2 separate regions of the Homo sapiens genome follow, and region 2 is linked to region 1. The links come from fine-mapping of genetic effects on gene expression. A gene starts in region 1. The other region holds a variant in brackets. All regions are shown on one strand. Distances are between the middles of the regions.

Region 1 (2,910 bases):
GCAGGAGAATCGCTTGAACCCGGGAGGCGGAGGTCGCAATGAGCCGAGATTGTGCCACTGCACTCCAGGCTGGGTGACAGAGCGAGACTCCCTCTCAAAAAAACAAAAAAGGCTTTCCTGAGCTCCAGTGCATGCAGCTTTTGAAAGATGGTATTGTTATGAATCCCCTGCAGCGCAACGTGCAGGCTCGCTACTGTAGTGAATGCTACTGGTAAATCAGACCACAGTGATTTAAAACAAAAATCTGCAGGAAGTGAGACCCTGTGACTTGAAAGTCAGAGGGCCAGGGCAAGCCTTGTCAAGAAAAGAAAGCATGAGATCCTAGAATCCTCGTTTGGAAGGGACTCACCTCTCATTTCTAGGGAGGCATCACAAGGCAGTATAGTTTATGAAGACCACCTGGCCATCGACCTGAAATTAAACCAGAGGTGCAATTCACAAACCTCGATAGGCAAGGCAGGTAGAAGTTGCCAGAAGAAACAGTGACTCTCTTTAAGATGAAGCAGCCCAGAACGGCATCATCTCACTCAGGTAGTGCGTCTGAATGAGCATGCACAATTGTTTAAATGAATAAATGTTTTGCTACACTGGGTCCATTATAATTCGAGCCTACACCCCCTCCTAGATCTTGAAAACTTGAAGAACTTCTTAGCTGAAAATAACAGCTCAGCTAAACAGGCATTTATTTGCCCACAAGACCGCATCTCTGAACAGTTTCAACAAGCTAAAAAAACTGACGTCCTTTCCAAAGAAAAGGAAGTCGGCTGCCAGGGGAGAAAAGGCTTCAGCGATGCTTGGAGGAAGGGACTCTGGTTTACGCTGGCTCCCTTCCTAAACACTTCCGGAAGCAGAGCCCCTTCCCGGCCGCTGGAGAAGCCTGGGTGGGACCCCGAGTCGGCCAGTTACAGGATAGGAGGTGCCAGGCAAGGCACTGAAGCCATGCAGTGAGAACAGCGTGAGCGCCTGATCCATTGGGTCCTGCGGCTGCCAGGCCAGAGGCCCCGCGCCAGGAGCTCTTCAGGCGCCGGCTGCTGACAGTTCCAGGCGTGGAGCGCCTTCCCACGTGAAACGCGTCCCGGAAGATACGATCCTCACAACCTCTTCCCTCAAAAACAGACTCGGCAAAGTTAGCCCGGATAAACCTGCCCCGTCGCCCCAGCGCCTCGCGGACGCTCCCCTCCCACCTTCAGGAAACGCGCCTAGAAGAAAGCGAGCTTAATCCGCCGGTAAGGCGGACGTGACGTCACAAAGCGCCGGTTCCTTTCGGCTCCCGCTCCCAGAGGCGCGCAGTGCATGCCGGGCCCTGTAGTTTTTCCGGGGAGTCGGTGCCAGGGCCGAGATTCCCGCGCTTCAAGTCCCGCAGCCCTGGCTGCGTCTTAGAGAGGCGTGAAACCGGATGATGGGAGCCGCTTGTTGGCTTAGATATTCCTTCAACTAGAATGACGTATCTTGCAGCACTCGGCTGAATTTTTTTCTTTTTCTTTTTTTTTTTTGAGACGGAGTCTTGCTCTGTTGCTCAGGCTGGAGTGTAGAGGCGCGATCTCGGCTCACTGCAACCTTCGCCTCCCGGTTCAAGCGATTCTCCTGACTATGCTGTATTTCTATCTGTAACATCACTGTCCAATAGATATATAATTCGAACCATATACGTAATTTAAAAATTTCCAGTAGCCTCATTAAAAGTCAAAATAGAAACAATCATATATATTTTATTTAACCCATACATCCCAAATAGTATTATTTCAACATATAATCAAAAAATTTTTTGAGATGGAGTCTCGCTTTGTCGCCCAGGCTGGAAGCGGCGCAATTTCGGCGCACTGCAACCTCCGTCTCCTGGCTTCAAGCGATTCTCCTGCCTCAGCCTCCCAAGTAGCTGGGATTACAGGCGCCCGCCATCACACCCGGCTCATTTTTGTTATTTTTAGTAGAGACGGGGTTTCGCCATGTTACCAGGCTGGTCTCGAACTCCTGACCTCAAGTGATCCGCCCGCCTCAACCTCCCAGAGTGCTGGGATTACAGGCGTGAGTCACGATGCCCGGGGTCGGTCTGTCTGTCTCATATATATATATATATATATTTTTTTTTTTTTTTTTTTTTTTTTTGAGACGGAGTCTCGCTCTGTCACCCAGGCTGGAGTGCAGTGGCGCAATCTCTGCTCACTGCAAGCTCCGCCTCCCAGGTTCACGCCATTCTCCTGCCTCAGCCTCGCGAGTAGCTGGGACTACAGGTGCCTGCCACCACGTCAGGCTAATTTTTGTATTTTTAGTAGATACGGGGTTTCACCATGTTAGCCAGGATGGTCTCGATCTCCTGACCTCGTGATCTGCCCGCCTCGGCCTCCCAAAGTGCTGGATTACAGGCGTGAGCCACCGCACCTGGCTGCCGAGTCTCAATATTTTAAAAAATACTTATGTTCTGTTCTGTTTTTAATGCGAAGTTTAAGAAATCTGGTGTGTGTTACACTTAGAATACATCCCAATTTGGATCAGCCACATTTCAGATGCTGGATAGTCACATGTGGCTACTGGCTACTGTAGTACAGTACTACTACAGTGTAGTGGGCAGAACAGGTCTAAAAACCTTTGGATTGCCGGGAATAAGTAATATAGCTGCCTGGATACTTCAGGGGCCTTTGTCACCCAGTAACTGAATGCTCTATTACTAAAAATGAAAGAATTCATTTTTCTTTGTTACCCCTCAAAAATTTATGCAACTTGCTCAACCCCATCCTTCTCTCTAGTTCAAAGGAAATGGGACATGGCCCTCCTCCAAGGCCAAAGACTTTGCTCCTCATTCCTCTCCAATATCTTTAATCTGCAAGTGACTGCCTCTTCTGTCTTTTAAGAAATATTCCAGTGGGGGTAAGGGGTATCAAAGACCTTCTTCTAGGGTTCTTTATCTCAGGG
Region 2 (2,910 bases), 110 kb before region 1:
GGCCTCTAGAAGCTGGTAAAGTCAAGGAAGCAAATTCTTCCTAGAGCCTCTAGAAGGAACATAGTCCCGTTGAACCTTGGTTTTAGCCCAGAGACATCCAATTTGGACTTTTGACCACCAGAAGTAAGAACTATAAGATGATAAAATCAATATAGTTTTAAGTAGCTCAATTTGGGGAATTGATTACAGTAACAATAGCAAACTTATACAAACATTAAGAATTTATTCATTCATCCATGAATATTTATTTATTTATTTATGAGTCTCACTCTGTCACCCAGGCTGGAGTGCAGTGGCACGATCTCAGCTCACTGCAACCTCCGCCTCCTGGGTGCAAGAGATTCTCGTGTCTCAGCCTCCTGAGTAGCTGGGATTACAGGCACAAGCCACTACGCCAAGCTAATTTTTTTTGCATTTTTAGTAGCAATGGGGTTTTGCCATGTTGGCCAGGCTGGTCTCGAACTCCTGACCTCAGGTGATCTGCCCACCTAACCCTCCCAAAGTGCTGGCATTACAGGCGTGAGCCACTGTGCCCAGTCCATCTGTGAATATTTACAGAGTTCGTTCTATATGCTGGCAACATTGGTGAAAAAAGTCTAAGATGCCTGCTCTCAAAGAGCTTATTTCTTTAAGGATGTATTTTCAGAGAGATATTGCAGTGAAAGAGAACAGATATAGAGAACATAAACACAAGCGGTCTGTAATGGCTGGCTCCCTAGCCTCTAACCTCCACAGCAGAGTCACCTAACTCCCAACCAAGGCCTCAAGACCACCCTGGCCCCAAATGGCAGCAATGCAAAGAAACTGAGCCAAGTGGGCAGCATGAGGCTCAGCACTCAGCCCTCCTTCCAGCTGGCCCCACTTTCATCTTGTGTTCCAGTGAATGACTGGGTCAACACAGCCAGTTCCTCTGAAGCTGGGGTTCTAGGCAGACCACATGGGTCCTCCTGGGGATTAAGAGTCTTATGTGGTCCTTCAACTCCGTGCTGAGCTGCCTTGATACTAATCATTGCCCATCAGCCTGCAACTCTACCCATTGTCCAATGGGAGACTCCTCTCTTGCCAAACCCCACCTCCCTGCCTGGAGGTCCAACTGTCCCCTCCACTCCTCTCTAACAAGAGGACATGCCCACTGAACTACCAACTGTAGTCAACCACCTCTCTCGGATACTGCCTGCCTGCTCCTCCCTGGTTCGTGGGTGTGCCCCTGGCCTGCCTTACCTCAGTGGTCTCTGGATCCTAGCCTGAGCAGACTTTGTCCTGATCAGGCTTTCCATCTATTCTCCACGCAAAGCCAGTAAGTCAATGCCACTGGGTAAGGGATTTCTTCTCGGGATGATGCAAATATTCTCAAATTGATTGTGGCAACAGTTATACAACTCTCTGAACACACTAAAAACCACTGGACTGTGTACTTTAAAAAAAGTCAGGATTGGCCGGGCATGGTGGCCCACATCTGTAATCCCAGCA[C/T]TTTGGGAGGCCAAGGTGGGTGGATCATGAGGTCAGGAGTTCAAGACCAGCCTGGCCAAGATGGTGAAACCCTGTCTCTACTAATAATACAAAAATTACCCGGGTGTGGTGGTGGGTGCCTATAATCCCAGCTACTCGGGAGGCTGAGGCAGAGAATTGCTGGAACCCAGGAGGCGGAGGCTGCAGTGAGCTGAGATCCTGCCACTGCACTCCGGCCTGGGTGACAGAGTGAGACTCCATCTCAAAAAAAAAAAAAAAAAAGGCCAGGCGCAGTGGCTCACACCTGTAATCCCAGGACTTTGGGAGGCCGAGACTGGCGGATCATGAGGTCAGGAGATTGAGACCATCCTGGCTAACACCGTGAAACCCCATCTCTAATAAAAATACAAAAAATTAGGCGGGCGTGGTGGTGGGCGCCTGTAGTCCCAGCTACTCAGGAGGCTGAGGCAGGAGAATGGTGTGAACCCGGGAGGCAGAACTTGCAGTGAGCCGAGATCGCGCCACTGCACTCTAGCCTGGGCGACAGAGTAAGACTCCATCTCAAAAAAATAAATAAATAAATAAAAATAAAAGTCAGAATCATCTCATCTCTGCTCAAAACCCCCCAGTAGAGCCCTCCAGGACCTGCCCTCCCCTCCTCCTCTCCCCCTTGCCCACATAGTCCCTCCAGGCACCCTGGCCCCCTCAATGTTTCTTCTGTAAGCTCCTGTTTCAGGGCCTCTGAATCGGCTGCTCCCTGGACTGGAACACTTGCTCTTACCCCAAGAGCTGTTGGCTCATTCCTCACTTCCTTCGGATTTTGACTCCAATATCATCACCATCGAGGGTCTCCCCATCACCCAACGACAAATGGCACTCCACCCCAGCTACACAGGCCCTACCACTTTCTGCCCTCACCCTGACACTCACGACCAGCTGTTCCAGCCCACAGGTTGGTTGTTTTCTCCCTCCCTCCATTGGAATTAAAGCTCCATGTGGGAAAGGGCTTTGTTTTGTTCACCATGGCATCTTGACCTGGTACCTAGAGAAAAAAAAGGGGGGCACACAATTGACACTCAGTAAATGTTTGTTGAGTGAATAAATGAGTGGTCCAAATCTGACCCAGTCTTGATTCCAGCAATGACACAAGAAAAATATTATTGGGTTGTACTTTAATTATCACAAGACCCTCTAGGACTTTAGTTTAGTGAAATCTGTATTATCACACAATAAAATCAATCCTGATACCAGAAAAAGATCTGCCTTCCTTGACATTCAGATTCATTAAAAATGACAAAAGAAATCTAAACAACTGGAATAAGGAGGGTTGGGCAGATATTGCGGGTAAAAAAAATCAATCCAAAGCTTCCTGGTAGAAATGAATATTTCAGAGCAATGATTTTGCAATAACAAGTTGGCATAAACTGCAAATAACCTTTTCTGTGGGGCCAAAATATTAAC

Evidence for each region. PIP is the estimated chance that this variant, and not a neighbour inherited with it, causes the effect. A credible set is the group of variants that fine-mapping cannot tell apart.
Region 2: its variant is the best candidate, but not a certain one, in a credible set for the expression of ADAT1 in esophagus mucosa (GTEx, PIP 0.59).

Annotation. Positions count from the first base shown.
Region 1 is chr16:75,622,054-75,624,963 of GRCh38, forward strand. ADAT1 (adenosine deaminase tRNA specific 1) reads right to left here and starts at 1,228. Exons shown (of 10, transcript NM_001324445.2): 1 at 350-1,228. RefSeq lists enhancers at 1-501, 502-1,021, 903-1,142, 1,022-1,541.
Region 2 is chr16:75,511,402-75,514,311 of GRCh38, forward strand. No RefSeq gene overlaps it. Among named protein-coding and RNA genes, the nearest start is that of CHST6, 17 kb to the left of the region's middle. The variant C/T (reference allele first, on the strand shown) is at 1,471.